Regions from separate parts of the Homo sapiens genome. Here region 2 is linked to region 1. Evidence: fine-mapped expression QTL. Tissue or cell type: nasal epithelium. Region 1 holds a variant in brackets; the other region holds the start of a gene. All regions are shown on one strand. Distances are from middle to middle.

Evidence for each region. PIP is the estimated chance that this variant, and not a neighbour inherited with it, causes the effect.
Region 2: it holds the start of CFAP74, and the variant in region 1 is fine-mapped to the expression of CFAP74 in nasal epithelium (TOPMed, PIP above 0.99).

Annotation. Positions count from the first base shown.
Region 1 is chr1:1,973,181-1,981,279 of GRCh38, forward strand. CFAP74 (cilia and flagella associated protein 74) reads right to left here. Exons shown (of 39, transcript NM_001304360.2): 7 at 845-1,018. Among named protein-coding and RNA genes, the nearest start is that of CFAP74, 27 kb to the right of the region's middle. RefSeq lists enhancers at 1-214, 5,444-6,401, 6,402-7,359 and a silencer at 472-639. The variant T/C (reference allele first, on the strand shown) is at 3,386.
Region 2 is chr1:1,999,720-2,007,815 of GRCh38, forward strand. It overlaps CFAP74 (cilia and flagella associated protein 74), which reads right to left and starts at 4,067. Exons shown (of 39, transcript NM_001304360.2): 1 at 3,982-4,067. RefSeq lists a silencer at 3,931-4,225.

The sequences.
Region 1 (8,099 bases):
CCTTGGGGAGGAGCGAGGGTCCCTGGAGAGCTGATGCCGTGGGCCACACAGATGTCAAACTCTCCACGCTACTGGGGCTCCAGTGCCAGGGAGCCACCAAAGGCAAGGTTTGATCCCAGCTGGGCAGGGGTCTGGGAAGAGGACGGTGCAGGCACAGCAGTGCTGTGGGGAGGGAGGAGGCAGGGGCTGGGGACCTTGTGTCTGCAGCCAGGGCCTGGATTCCACAGGGGTTTGTGGCCTGGGCAGCTGAAGGGAAGGAATGAGATGGGGGAGGGGATGGAGGCCAGAAGGGGGTCCCGAGGAGAGAGGCTCACGGCAGGTTGGGACAGCTGGCCTGATGGCCTGTGGAGCACTTGGGGACTGGCCTAGTAGGTGGCCGGGCCCTGGCTGAGCAGGAGACTCATGACAGAAGACGTGTGGGGAATGGGCCTGAGTGCTCCACAGCCACGCAGGTGGGGGCCGTGGGAGGGGTGCAAAGGAGCAGCCAGAGGTGGGGATGGAGCCCAGAGAATGGCCTGGCTGGGAAGAGGAAGGGGCTGCCGGAGGGAAAGGGGAGGGGCAGTCTTGCTGGAGCGTGGCTTTAGTAGCCAGCTTTAGCGGCTGTATGGTGGCTGCGGCATCTTGGGAGGGCTGGGGCTCTGGGCAGGTGCAGGGGAGTGCCTGACACTTGGGAAGGACTCAAGGGCCCGGTGGAGGAGCAAGCTGGGAGGAGGCAGGGAGGGGTGGAGGTGGATCTGGACAGATGTGGAGGGCGAGGCTGAATCTGGAGACCCCTGGGGGAGAGGGCGGAGGGGCTGGCAGAAGCTGCTGGGAAGGGATGGAGGTGGGCCTGGGTGTCGCCTACCTGATCCTCAGCAGTCGGTTCCGCTCCACCTTCCCCAGGGCCTCCTGCTCTCTGCAGAGCTGCTCGGCTGCGCGCACCTGGAGCCGCCGCCCCGTGGCCTCCACCTCCTCACGGTCAGCTGTCCGGAAGGCCTCGAGTCGCCCCTCCTGGATCTCGATGTGCCACATGGTGTTCCTTCAAACAAGAGGCAAAGCAGCTGGAGACGGGCCCCACAGTCATCCTGGGGTGGGGGTTTCGGCATTGAGTTCTGACAAATCCTCCAGGCAGATGTTGAACACCCCAGATGGGTTAGCTCCCTCCTCTAGGGGCCATCTCCGCTCTGAGTCACCCAGACACTGAGGCCCGCCCTGCCTGCCTCCAACCTCAGGAAAATCACTATGGGTTCAATCCAGCCCGGCTAGAGCCTGGCCTGCACTCCCGCGTGCCACCTGCCGGCCTGAGGCTGTGTCCGTTGGCTGCGGTGGGCCTGGGGCAGGCCCTGCCCAGCCTGAGGAAGGCCTTCAGGAAGGGACAGCCGTGACTCTTTGGCTGGGCTGGAGGATCCCTGGTGCAAATTGACCGGCACCCAAGACCACCCCTCAGTCTTCAAATGTGCCTGGGGTGGGGGCTATGGAGCGTGGAGTCAGCCAGCCCTGCCCGGGGCCACATGTCCTGGATGACAGGGGACCTGCCTGACCCCTGGTCTTGGGCGAATTTGTCCTCGACTGTGAGTGTGGCGTCTGTGGTGGCCCCAGATGACACAGTGCCCCTTGGTTCTTGGCACAACTCAGGGAAATTTCCGGTGAATCTTTAGTTGGAGGAGTGCGTGTGCTGTGGAGGCTCAGGCTGGGAAAGTTCCTTCTGAGGATGTGGACAGTGTCCTTCTAACAGCGGCCAGGTGAGAGCCGCTGGAGAGGCGGCCTGGAAAGAGACACCTGGTGGAGGGATGCAAGGAGCCGCTCCTGGAGACTGCGAACGGTTCCACCCAGAGATGCGGCTCAGGCCGGGGCTGGCCACGCGAGGATCAGAACCCTGGACAAGGTCAGACGCAGGCGTTGAGCCGGCATCCTCACTGCATTGCTGACATTCCACGTGACGTGTGCCACAGCTCTGTCCTAGACACCCGCGATCATGTTCATTTCCACTTCGTCTTTCGTTAAAAGCTTTTCCTGTGGAGCCGAGTCCAGTCTCTCTCCCCACTGCAACACCCGGGGCAGGGGTCCCACCGCCTTGGCCCTCCGTGAATAAAGTCTGCTTTACATCTTTTTGAAAAAATCATGAACATATGTTGAATTGAGATACTCAATGGTTTTCTCTTTTAACGTGTTAATGTCAAGGATTTCTAACGTTGAGCCTTTTTCGGGGCTCCTAGGATATAAACTCCAACTTGGCAAGGGAGGTGTGTCTGCGTGTCTCACACGTGGCTGGATTTCAATGTTGAATGTTTGATTTGGGGTTTTCTGATTTGCCTCCTGAGATCGGGTTCTACTTTCCCTCTCTCGTACGCCCACTTGGTTTTGGCATCGAGGTTGTGTCACTGCATTTTAGAAACTGGGCATACCATGTTCTTTGTTGGGGTAATTTTAAACAGAGGGCTCCTTTCCAGGGAGCATGGGTCACTTCGGATCTCTGGCTGGTGTCCTGTCATGCAGCACGTTCATTGCTCCCCAAGTCTGGGGGACTCCGCGGAGCTTCCACGGGCGGGTTATTTCTATTCCTCCCTCGCGTGACTCATGAAATTCTTTAATCTGAGGATTCATGCTCCCATCAATTCTGGAAAACGCTCAGTCATTGTTCTGCTGGCTGTCACTTCCCCTGCCCGGTGATCAGTGCTCCAGTGGCCGTGGGAGCTAACAGCCTGCAGGGTCTCTTAGTAAAGAGGCAAGACGCTGTCCCAGATGCTGTCGTCGCCCATTCCTGCTGCTGTAGGAAAACACCCACGACCGGGTCTTCGCAAACAACAGAATTTCATTCCTCAGTTCTGGAGGCCGGGAAGTCCAAGGTCAAGGTGCCAGCAGCTTCGATGGCCTATGAAAGCCTGTTCCTCAAAGGCAGTGCCTGTCTGTGTCCTCACGTGGCAGAGGGACAGAAAGGCTCCCTCAAGCCCTTTTACGAGGCACTAATCGCCCCCACGAGGGCAGGGCCCCCATGGCCGAATCTCCCAGAGACCCCACCTCTTCCTGCCGTCACCTCCAGGGCGGATTTGGTTTGGACGCGTGTCCCCCGCAGGTCTCGTGTTGAACCGGAGCCCCCAGTGTTGGAGGTGGGCCTGGTGGGAGGTGTTGGGGTCGTGGGGCGGCTCCCTCATGAACGGGTGGGCCGTCTCCTTGGTGACGAGTGAGTTCACGGAAGATCTGGATCTTTGAAAATGTGTGGCACCTCCACCCTCTTGCTTCCCCTCTCACCATGGGAGACACGGCTCCTTCCCCTTCCACTGTGATTGGAGGCTTCCAGAGGCTTCCCGAGGCGCCCCGAGAAGCAGATGCCATCACGTTCCCTGTACAGCCTGCAGAACCCTGACCAATCAAACCTCTTTTCTTCTTATTTTTATTTCTTTTAAAA[T/C]GAGTCTTGCTCTCTCCGCCAGTCTGGAGTGCAGCGGCATGATTTCAGCTCACTGCAAACTCCACCTCCCGGGTTCAAGCAATTCTCCCGCCTCAGCCTCTTGAATAGCTGGGATTACAGGCATGCACCACCACGCCCAGCTAGTTTTTGTATTTTTAGTAGAGACGGGGTTTCACCATGTTGGCCGGGCTGGTCTCAAACTCCTGACCTCAGGTGATCTGCCCACCTTGGCCTCCCAAAGTGCTGGGATTACAGGTGTGAGTCACTGTGTCTGGCCCAAACCTCTTTTCTTTTTTTTTTGAGACAGTCTCGCTCTGTTGCCCAGGCTGGAGTACAGTGGTGCGGTCTCAGCTCACTGCAAGCTCCGCCTCCCGAGTTCACGCCATTCTCCTGCCTCAGCTTCCTGAGTAGCTGGGACTACAGGTGCCTGCCACCATGCCCGGCTAATTTTTTGTATTTTTTTTAGTAGAGACGGGGTTTCACCGTGTTAGCCAGGATGGTCTCAATCTCCTGACCTCATGATCCACCCACCTTGGCTTCCCAAGGTGCTGGGATTACAGATGTGAGCCACCTCGCCCAGCCACCTCTTTTCTTTATATGACCCAGTGTCAGGCATTTCTTTATAGTGACACAAAGACTGACGAACAATAGCGTTGAGTTCCAGCAGACCAATTTCAGGGGCACTGGCCTTCAGACCACAGCAGAGGCTGATTGGGAAAGATTGGGATTTTGAGAATGGGAGGGAGGACATTTGAGGGTATCTGCACACATCTGAGCGAGTGCCCCAAACCGCCAAGCCCCTCTGCATATCCGTCCACAGGGAAGCAGCCTTCCCCTCCCTCGAAGGCAGGCTCTGCTGCCTGGGGGCCCCGTAACACCTCCCTGAGGGGCTGCCAGAGCTCCTCATGACCCCCTTGCCATCCTCTCTGGCCCAGATGCTCCCAGGGGCAAGAACAAAGTCTGAACTGAACTGAGAGGAGAAGGATCCCAGAGGAGAAGAATGTAGCCAATCTACACAGCAGGACGTGGGGGAAGGTGTGTGGGAATGAATTCCAACCCTGCCAGACCGCAGAGGGAAGAGCCTGTCCGAGGCTGGCCTGGGCATCTGATGTGGACATGCCACCAGCTCACCCACCCACTGCAGGCGGCTCCCATCACAAACTCAGCTGATCGAGGAAACCTGGACCCAAGAGAGACCTACACTGCAGAAAGCTAGATGCCAGAAAGTCATGCAGAAGGAATCCAAATGTTTGGAGAGACAACCCGTTGGAAAGTTTGTTGTTGCTGTTGTTGAGATGGTGTCTCGCTCTGTGGCCCAGGCTGGAGTGCAGTGGCGCAGTCTCAGCTCACTGCATCCTTGACCTCCTGGGCTTGCTTAATCAATCCTCCCACCTCAGCCTGTAATCTTGAGTAGCTGGGATTACAGGTGCACGCCACCACACCCAGCTAAGTTTGGTATTTTTTGTACAGATGGGGTTTCACCATGTTCCCAGGCTGATCTCAAACTCCGGGGCTCAAGCGATCTGCCCACCTTGGCCTCCCAAAGTGTTGGGATTACAGGCGTGAGCCACTGCATCCAGCTGTTGGTGAGTGTGACAGTGAGTGTGACCACATATAGAAGACATGTTCTTCATTATGGCTCCAGTGAGGAGAGTCCTGTGCCCTTTGAAAGCACCGAGGGGCACTCCGGACTGCGCGGGGGCCTGGCAGGGATGTTGCCTTTGAGGGGCTCCCTGTTGCCTTGGGGCGATGCTGGACCTGGGAGGGGTGGTGGAGCCCTGGGGTGCTGCTAGGCCTGGGAGGGAGCCGGGCTGGTTCCTCGGTGGGCAGCAGGGCAGCGTGTCTCAGCGGGGATGGGTGGAAGGGGTTTGGGGCGGTGGTTAATTGATTTTGGGGTCCCTAGGGCTGAAGTAGATGGGGACCCCACTCAAGTCCAGTTTATCTGAAGAGCCAGTGTGGTCAGTCGCAGAGGTGATGATGAAGGTTGGAGGCTGGACAGATGGGACCTGGCTGGTTTTGAAGATGGAGGAGGAACGCAGGCAGCTTTGGAGCTGGAAAAGGCGAGGACATGGATTCTCCTCGGAGGCTTCCGTGGGGAACCAGCCCTGCCCACACCTTGACTTTAGCCCAGTGGGACCCGTGTTGGGCCAATGACCTCTAGAACTGCAAGCTCATAAATCCGCGTCCTGCTGAGCTGTTAGGTTTGTGGATTTGTCACTGCAGCGATGGGATACGGGTGCAGTCAGGGAAGCCTCAGAGCAGGCCGGGACACAGCACCAGCGCCCTGCCGTGGGTCCCATGTGGCCAAGCGGGGTGCACACAAAGCCTCTTCTTCGTGCTGAGCTGGGCGTGGGAAGGCATCATGTGACGAGGCTGCACAGAACACGTGTGTCGTGCTGAGCTGGGCGTGGGAAGGCGTCACGTGACGAGGCTGCACAGAACACGTGTGTCGTGCTGAGCTGGGCGTGGGAAGGCGTCATGTGACGAGGCTGCACAGAACATGCGTGTGGTACTGAGCTGGGCGTGGGAAGGTGTCACGTGACAAGGCTGCACAGAACATGTGTGTGGTACTGAGCTGGGCGTGGGAAGGCATCATGTGACAAGGCTGCACAGAACACGTGTGTCGTGCTGAGCTGGGCGTGGGAAGGCGTCATGTGACGAGGCTGCACAGAACACGTGTGTCGTGCTGAGCTGGGCGTGGGAAGGCGTCATGTGACGAGGCTGCACAGAACACGTGTGTCGTGCTGAGCTGGGCGTGGGAAGGCATCATGTGACAAGGCTGCACAGAACATGCGTGTGGTACTGAGCTGGGCGTGGGAAGGCGTCACGTGACAAGGCTGTGCAGAACACGCGTGTGGTACTGAGCTGGGCGTGGGAAGGCGTCACGTGATGAAGCTGCACAGAACACGCGTGTGGTACTGAGCTGGGCGTGGGAAGGCGTCACGTGACGAAGCTGCGCAGAACACGCGTGTGGTACTGAGCTGGGCGTGGGAAGGTGTCACGTGACGAGGCTGCGCAGAACATGCGTGTGGTACTGAGCTGGGTGTGGGAAGGCATCACGTGACGAGGCTGCGCAGAACACGTGTGTCGTGCTGAGCTGGGCGTGGGAAGGTGTCGCGTGACGAGGCTGCGCAGAACACGCATGTCATGCTGAGCTGGGTGTGGGAAGGCGTCACGTGACGAGGCTGTGCAGAACACGCGTGTGGTACTGACCTGGGTGTGGGAAGGCGTCACATGACGAAGCTGCGCAGAACACGCGTGTGGTACTGACCTGGGTGTGGGAAGGCGTCACATGACGAAGCTGCGCAGAACACACGTGTCGTGCTGAGCTGGGCATGGGAAGGTGTCACGTGACGAGGCTGCGCAGAACACGCGTGTGATCGCTCACGGCCTGCCTCCCACCACCGAAGCAGCCTCCACCAGGCAGGGCTCTGCTGCTTCATTCATGGGAGAGGCCCAAAGGCTTCGGACGGCGTCTGGCACGCAGTGGGCACCCTCTTACCGCGTGGGGAGGACGGGTGAACGAGAGTGTATCTAAGCCACCGGCACAGATCGCAGTGGGCGCCCTCTTACCGCGTGGGGAGGACGGGTGAACGAGAGACTGTATCTAAGCCACCGGCACAGATCGCAGTGGGCGCCCTCTTACCGCGTGGGGAGGACGGGTGAACGAGAGACTGTATCTAAGCCACCGGCACAGATCGCAGTGGGCGCCCTCTTACCGCGTGGGGAGGACGGGTGAACGAGAGACTGTATCTAAGCCACCGGCACAGATCGCAGTGGGCGCCCTCTTACCGCGTGGGGAGGACGGGTGAACGAGAGACTGTATCTAAGCCACCGGCACAGATCGCAGTGGGCGCCCTCTTACCGTGTGGGGAGGACGGGTGAACGAGAGACTGTATCTAAGCCACCGGCACAGATCGCAGTGGGCGCCTCACAGCAGCCCCCGGGCACAGGGATGGGACCTGCGCAGGCGCTGAGGACCGGGAGGTGGTGTGAGCGGGCAGGGTCGTCTCTAGGGCCTTCTTTGGGGGTTCCTGGGACCTGCTGGCCAGGAAATGCCCGTGAGTCCACAGACGCTTCTGCCAGCCCATGGCCCCTTGCGTGCAGAGATGCTGGTCCTGGGAGAGCTGCGGGTGAGACACATGCAGCATCCCGTCTCCAAGATGATTCCAAGGACCCTCGGCTGTTCATGCCTGAAGCCCCTCCACGGGGTCTCTCTCGGGCTGGCCTGAACACCCCAAGCCCAACCCCCTGCCCAGACCACGACCCTCAGAAACCGAGACCCTCAGAAACCGAGACCATCACGCCTGCTGCCTTAGGCGGCTAAGGGCTGGGGCGGCCTGTTCTGTGGCTGCGGATGACGCGCATGGTGTGGCAGCAGGGACACGTGCTGGGGAAGGTTCAGGTGCTGTTTCCAGAACGCGGTTTGGGTCCCGAAGCAGCGGCCAGCCTCGTGGCCGCCACCTGTCCCAGAGCCACAACGGAGGCCTCCCGGGACCGACGCTGGAAGCGGGGACCACGCTCTCCAAGCTGCCCCTCGCACACACCCGTGCTATTTCGTTTCTGTGCTCTCTCCGTTGGGCTCTACCGCTGGAAGCCCCCGTTCCAGAGGGAGGAGGCCTTGCAGAGACCCTGCAACAATCCCACTGAGTGGAAGCTGAAGCTGCACCCAGCCGTCCAGTGCCCCTGTGCCCGCAGTGCCCAGAGACGACAA
Region 2 (8,096 bases), 27 kb after region 1:
GGCAAGAGACTCCTTTGAACCTGGGAGGAGGAGGTTGCAGTGAGCCAAGATTGTGCCACTGCACTACAGCTTAGGCGACAGAGCAAGACTCTGTCTCAAACAAATAAACAAAACCAAATCTTTTGTTCAGATGACATCCTAGGGAAAGTTAAAGAAAACCTACAGGCCGGGCGCGGTGGCTCACGCCTGTAATCCCAGCACTTTGGGAGGCTGAGGCGGGCGGATCATGAGGTCAGGAGATCAAGACCATCCTGGCTAACACGGTGAAACCCCGTCTCTACTAAAAATACAAAAAATTAGCCAGGTGTGGTGCAGGCGCCTGGAGTCCCAGCTCCTCAGGAGGTTGAAGCAGGAGAGTTGCTTGAACTGGTGAGGTGGAGGTTGCAGTGAGCTGAGATCGTGCCACTGCACTCCAGCCTGGGCGACAGAGCGAGACTCCATCTCAAAAAAAAGAAAAAAGAAAACCTACAAAGTAGAAGACAATCACAGCACATAACCCAGAATTTTACTGTCAAGACCATGTAAGGAATATCCATGAATGGATAAAGACAGACAGCCCCACAGCAAAATGGGCAAAAGACGTCAACAGGCACTTCACAGTTAAGGACGTGCCACGTCCCCTAACACGCGCATGGGTTCGGAGGACCAGGACATGGGTTTTTTGGGGAAGGGGGAGATCATCCTGCCTATGGCACCCTCTGGCTCTGCGATTCCTCTCCCAGGAGCACACCCTACAGAAAATCCCACCTGTTGTGTTAGCTTCCCGGGGTCGCCATAACAAAGTACCACAACCTAGGTGGCTTCAACAACAGAGTTGTCTCACGGTTCTGGAAGCCATCGTCTAAAACCGAGTTGATGGCAGGGCCATGCTTCCTCTGAAGGCACGAGGGAAGGGCCTGTTTCAGGCCTCTCTTTTAGCTTCTGCTAGTTCTGTGGCTTGTGGCAGCAAAATTCCAATCTTCATAGGACATTCTCTCTGTGTGCATTTGTATGTCCAAATTTCTCCTTTTTATAAGGACACCGGTCATACCAGATGAGGCACTCACCCTATTCTAGTATGTCCTCCTCTTAGCTACTTACAGGCATCACTGTAAGTCCAAATAAGGTCATATTCTCAGGTCCTGAGGCTTAGAGACAGCCCCGATGGCCACGGTGCCACTGTGTGGATGAATCTCTCGCACAACCCCGAGGAGAAAAAGACAGAGGCCCGCCTGATGCTCTTCCTCTCCCCCTTCCCTTCACTGTCACAGTAGGTTCCCTGGGTAGGGCAGGTGGAGCAGGATCCACAGTGGCCCAGGCTGGGCTGTCGGAGCCTGGCTGGGTGAGGAGGGTGAGGGTATGTGGCTGAGGCTCAGAGCTGTTTGCAGGTGCCTGGCTGGGTGAGGAGGGTGCCGGTGTGCGTGGCTGAGGCTCAGAGCTGGATGTCAGAGCCTGAGAAGAAAGAGGGCGGCCCCAGGTGTGGTCCAGCAGAGGGTATCAGAGCCCAGGCAGGAGAAGAAGGTGTCCACCATGAGAGCCTCCCAGGCCAAGCCTGGGAGTGATGACATATTTGCATAGCTTCCAAATACCTCCTACAAAATGCTTGTGTTTTTGTTTTGTTTTGTTTTTCATTTTGTTTTTTTTTTTTTGAGACGGAGTCTCGCTCTGTCGCCCAGGCTGGAGTGCAGTGGCGCAGGGTCGGCTCACTGCAAACTCCGCCTCCTGGGTTCACGCCATTCTCCTGCCTCAGCCTCCCGAGTAGCTGGGACTACAGGCAACCGCCACCACACCTGGCTAATTTTTGTATTTTTAGTAGAGACGGTTTCACCGTGTTAGCCAGGATGGTCTCGATCTACTGACCTCGTGATCCGCCCTCCTCAGCCTCCCAAAGTGCTGGGATTACAGGCGTGAGCCACTGCACCCGGCCAAAATGCTTGTTAATTACGAAGGAAAAAAGAACTTCCCAGTGGAGATGTTGGCAGATACCACCTTAATCAAGAGCTCAAAGTGAACATCATCAGTAACGTGACAACGTGACCACTGTGAGCCACTGACTGGATGGAATGAACAGGCCACGGTGTCACCTCTGCGACTTTCCTGTCCGAGACGTGCAGTGGGAATCTAATCACGAGGACACAGCAGACGAAACCAAATGGAGGGACTTTCTCCAAAGTAATTGGCCCATGACCTTCAGAGGTGTCAGGGTCATGACAGCCAAAGCAAGGCCAAGGAATGTTCTGGACTGAAGGGGAATAAAGAGGTATGTGAGAATTCAGTGCAAAGTGACTCTAGGCTGGATCCTTCCACGCTGGGGCCCTGATGCAATCAACTGGCAAAGCGTGTTTGACAGGCTGAGGGGTAAACACGGCAACAGGCCTGTGTCCTCTCCTGACTCGGGCCATGTGTGGCTGTGTTGGAGAATGTCCTCGTTTGTGGAAAATACACTCTACAAGGGTGGGGGGCGACAGAGCATCATGAAGGCAACTTACTCTCAAATCCTTCACGAGAAGTTTTTTTGTGCTGAGCTTGCAACTTTTATACAAGTTTGGGATTGTTTCAAAAAATGTTAAAGAATGTATGTGGTATTACATAAAGTTTATATATATTATTAAACTTATATAAACCTTATATAATACCACACATATTCTTTAAAATTTTATATAAATAAATTTATATAAAATTTAAAATAAATGAAAGTTGGCTGGGTGTGGTGGCTCACCGCCTGTAATTCCAGCACTTTGGGAGGCGGAGGTGGGTGGATCATTTGAGATCAGGAGTTCAAGACCATCCTGGCCAACACGCGGAAACCCCGTCTATACTAAAAATACAAAAATTAGCCAGGCATGCTATAATCCCAGCTACTTGGGAGGCTGAGGCAGGAGAATCGCTTGAACCCAGGAGGTGGAGGTTGCAGTGAGCCGAGATCGCCCTGCTGCATTCCAACCTGGGCAACACAGTGAGACTCTGTCTCAAAAAAACAAAAATTTAAAGAATATATGTAGTATTATATGAAGTTTAATATATATTATTAAACTTACATAAAACTATATGTGGCATTATATATAGTCTATATATTTATATTATATATTGTTTATATAACACCACATATATTCTTTAAAATTTTATATAAAGTTTATATAAAGTTTAAAATAAGTGAAAGTTAACTATATTGTTTAGGGACACATGCATAGGTAGTAAAACTAAAGAAATTTATATATCATCTTTAAAATTTTATATAAATATAAAGTTTATATAAAGTTTAAAATAAGTGAAAGTTAACTATATTGTTTAGGGACGCATGCATAGGTAGTAAAACTAAAGAAAAAGTCAGCCATGGTCAAGAAGAGCGGGTCTGTGAGTGGCATGGGGGAGAGACTTTGGGGTGCTGATGAGGTTCTATTTCTTAACTTGGGTAGTGGCTACTGATGTTCGATTTATAACCAATCTCTAAGTCGCACATGCGCATTTATGCACCATCGTTATGCAGAGAATATCAGTCCATTTCTTTTCAACTGTGGGCCCTACAGCAGGCCTGCTTACTACCTCAGTACCTGGCTTATGCAGATAAAAGGAGTATTCCTTTAAGAAAAACAAAATACTAGAGGCAAATCAGCTTCCAAAACTAGGTTATACATACTAAAACTAAATGACTTTGGGGCTATGGACCATGCTCTCCTTTTTAGCTAGGCAGACACTCACGAGTCTTAACTGTTCACCAGACAGGCTGGCCCTTGATTTTTGTTTAATGTTTTTGTAAATGTGTTATAATAATACTTTATTATAACATCTGCTGCAAAGTCAGGGGCGGGTCCCTCAACAGAGGCTGTGCCAGCGCCGGGGTTCCCTGAAACGAACCAGGGACTAGAACTATTAACAAAGTCATTTTTCTGGCACAGCTTTCCGGGAAAGGCGTTTCATATGGGACGGAGTTCTGCCTGGGGGGCGGGGGTCAAACCCTTCCAGCTCAGCCCCAGGGTCAAACGCATCCGCCCCCACACCCACCTCTGGCTGGCCTGGGTCCCAGGTTCTCGGGCTCCGGAGGCACAGACACCCCGGGCTGCTCAGGCAGGCGGCGGTCCTTGGCGATTGCCCTCCGCGGCGCCGGCGGCGTGGTTTGGGGCGGGCAGCTCCATGGCAACGGAAGACTCCATCGTGGCCGGAGGGGGAGCCTCGCCCGTTCTGCTCCCCGGCTGGAGCGGGTGGTTTGGTCCGACCCACCACCGACCGCGCGGGCCGGGGCCGGGGCAAGGAGGTCGCGGGCCCCGAGGCGCGGCTGAAGGGCCAGGCCACAGGCCGCGGGGCGGGGACGTCTCCGGGGTCCCAGACAGCCAGGCCTGGCCCAGGGCCAAGGCTTGGAGGTGACAGACAGACTTGGGGGGCCTGGAGGAGCTCAGCACCGGCGCGTTGGCCCAGAGGACCGGGGCGGGTGCATGATGGTTTGGAGTCGTTTGTCAACCTAAAAAACTAGGAGGTTTCCCGTGAAAATGGGGATTTTCCTCTTCTCTTGCAAATGGAAGATCGGGCTGGGCGCGGTGGCTCACACCTGTCATCCCAACAATTTAGGAGGCCGAGGTGGACGGATCACTTGAGGTCAGGAGTTCGAGACCAGCTTCGCCAACATGGTGAAACCCCGTCTCTTCTAAATATACAAAAATTAGCAGGGCATGGTGGCAGCTGCCTGTAATCCCAGCTACTCAGGAGGCTGAGGCAGGAGAATCGCTTGAATCCAGGAGGAGGAGGTTGCAGTGAGCCAAGATCGTACCACTGCACTCCAGCCTGGATGACAGAGTGAGACTCCGGCTCAAAAAAAAAAAAAAAAAAAAAAAGACTTCTGAATGTTATGTTCCAGCAAAGGCTCCAACTGAAAAATTGTAAAAGTAAATAGCAAAGTCAGTGAGCTATGATGGTGCCATCACACTCTGGCCTGAGCGAAATCAAGACCCTGTTTCAAAATTAAAAACAGCAAAAACCCGGTTGGGCACAGTGGCTCATGCCTGTAATCCCAGCACTTTGGGAGGCTGAGTTGGGCAGATCACTTGAGGTCAGGAGTTCGAGACTATCCTGGTCAACATGGTGAAACCCTGTCTCTACTAAAAATACAAAAATTAGCCGGGTGTGGTGGCGCACACCTGCAGTCCCAGCTACCCCAGAGGCTGAGGCAGGAGAATCGTTTGAACCCGGGAGGTGGAGGTTGCAGCGAGCCAAGATTGCGCCACTGCACTCCAGCCTGAACGACAGAGCGAGACTCTGTCTCAAGACAAACAAACAAACAAAAAACAAAACGGAAGATGGGCCCAACATGCCAAGCCGGTTCCGACGTTCCCCATTGCCTTTCCCACAGTCCCCATCCCCCGCTGCCCAGCCCATCTCACTGTGCATCCTGTTACACCGGAGCCTCTTCTCGCACCGCTGGTCCGTGGGGGCCGTTTGCAATGGAGACATGGGAGTGTGAGGAAAGGGAGTGGTCTCTCACCGGGCCACTCTATGCCAAGAACTGGGCTCACGAGTGAATTGGACGCGTCCCCTACCCTGGCAGTCTTTCAGCCCGCCATGTGTAGGGCTTGCAGGGTGGCCGGCTCCTGATGCCACAGTGAGGCCTGGGAGGTCCTTTGGTTTTATCCTGGCCCATAACCTGATCCATCAGAGGCAAGACACCTTGCAGAATGCCCAGCACCCGTGAGAATGGCTGTGGAAAGTAGCTGGGTGACACCACAGCACCTCTGCACTCACCCACCTTCCGCAGTGCCAGATCGCTTTCCTCCTCAGAATCTGAGGAATAGAACCAAGCCACCATTACCAGCCCAGGTTCGCTTTTATAAGAGAGATTATACTTCTTCCCGACTCCACGGAAATGATAGGGCTTCTTCCTTATCAACTTTGCCTCCCTGGACCTTTCCCAATGAACTGTTAATATACTTTCTAGGAAAGGGCCGGGCACAGTGGCTCACGCCTATAATCCCAGCACTTTGGGAGGCCAAGGCAGGTGGATCACCTGAGGTCAGGAGTTCGAGACCCGCCTGGCCAACATGGTGAAACCCCTGTCTACTAAAATACAAAAACTAGCTGGGCGTGGTGGCGCATGCCTGTAATCCCAGCTACTCGAGAGGCTGACACAGGAGAATCACTTGAACCTAGGAAGCAGAGTTTGCAGTGAGCCAAGATCACACTACTGCACTCCAGCCTGGGCAACAGAGCGAGACTCCAACTCTCTCTCTCTCTCTCTCTCTCGTTCTCTCTCTCTCTCTCTCTATATATATATATATACTGTCTAGGAAAGAAGGAAAGGACAGTGACAGCCTGAGAACAGCCCCGTGTCCATGGAACTGGTTGGTTAAGGAAGCTGTGGAACAGCTACACGATGGAGGTCAGCTGTAAAGAAGGTATAAGGACCATTTATTTCTATGTTCTGCTGTGGAGTGACTCCAGAACATATTGTTAAGTAAAAAAAATTGAGCCAGGCATGGTGGCTTGAGCCTGTAGTCCCAGCTACTTGGGAAGCTGCAGGATGGATTGCTCAAGCCCAGGAGTTTGAGGCTACAGTGAGCTATGATTGTACCACTGTACTCCAGCCCTGGCAACATAGTGAACCCCATCTCAAAAAAGAAAAAAAAAATCCAGCCAGGTGCAGCGGCTCACGCTTCTAATCCCAGCACTTTGGGGGGCAAGGTGGGAGGATCGCTTGAGTCCAGGAGTTTGAGACCAGCCTGGGCAACATGGTGAAACTCTGACTCTAAAAAAATACAAAAAAAATTAGCCGGCCATGGCGGTGCACACCTGTAGCCCCAGCTACTCGGGAGGCTGAGGTGGGAGGACCTCTTGAGCCTGGGAGATTGATGCTGCCCTGAGCTGTGACTGTGTCACTGCACTCCAGCTTGGGTGACAAGTGAGATCCTGTCTCAAAAAAAAAAAAAAATCAAGATGCAGAAAAGTGTGTATAGTATTTATGTAAGAAGGAGCAGTGGCAATAAGAATATATATATATTTTTACATTAAAAAGGTTACTATCTGGGGCAGAAGGACACAGGAATAGAAAGTAGATCTCTTTAAATGTGCTTACATTCAGTTATAGAACTGTGTAATTAGAAAACCAAAAATAAATCAAAATAGAAAAGCATCTAAAACTTGGAGACAGAATGAAACAAATGAACCTAATTGTATGGCATGTGGGGGGGTTAGCCATACAAAAAAGGATAATTTTGAGTGACTTTTTATTTTTATTTTTAGACAGAGTCTCGCTGTGTCACCCAGGCTGGAGTGCAATGGAGTGATCTTGGCTCACTGCAACTTCCACCTCCTGGATCCAAGCAATTCTCCTGCCTCAGCCTCCCAAGTAGCTGAGATTACAGGCATGAGCCTCAATGCCTGGCTAGTTTTTTGTATTTTTAGTAGAGATGGGGTTTCACCATGTTGGCCAGGCTGGTCTCGAACTCCTGAGCTCAAGTGATCTGCCCGCCTTGGCCTCAGAAAGTAACTTTTTCAAAGAGACAATGTCTGGCTCTGTTCCCCAGACTGGAGTGCGGCGACTCCATCATGGCTCCCCGCAGCCTCCACCTCCTGCGCTCAAGAGAGCCTCCCACCTCAGCCTCCCAAGCAGCGGGGACTACATGTGTATACCACCATGCCCAGCTAATTCATTTCTATTTTATTTTATTATTATTATTTTTTGAGACAGAGTCTCGCTCTGTCGCCCAGGCTGGAGTGCAGTGGCGCAATGTCAGCTTACTGCAAGCTCCACCTCCCAGGTTCATGCCATTCTCCTGCCTCAGCCTCCCGTGTAGCTGGTCATTTTTATTTTTATTTTTGCAGAGATGAGGTCTCACTATCTTTTCCAGGCTGGTGTAGAACTCCTGGCCTCAAGAAATCCTTGAGTTGCAGTGAGCTGAGATGTGCAACTGCACTTCAGCCTGGGCGACAGAACAAGACTCCATCTCAAAAAAAAAAAAAAAAGAAAAAGAAAAAACAAATAAGTAATACAGGGAAGGTGGTTAAGTTTTGTGTATATTTTACCACATTAAAAAGTTTTAATCAGGCCATGCGCAGTGGCTCACACCTGTAATCCCAGCACTTTGCAGGGCCAAGGTGGATGGATCACTTGAGGTCAGGAGATCGAGACCAAC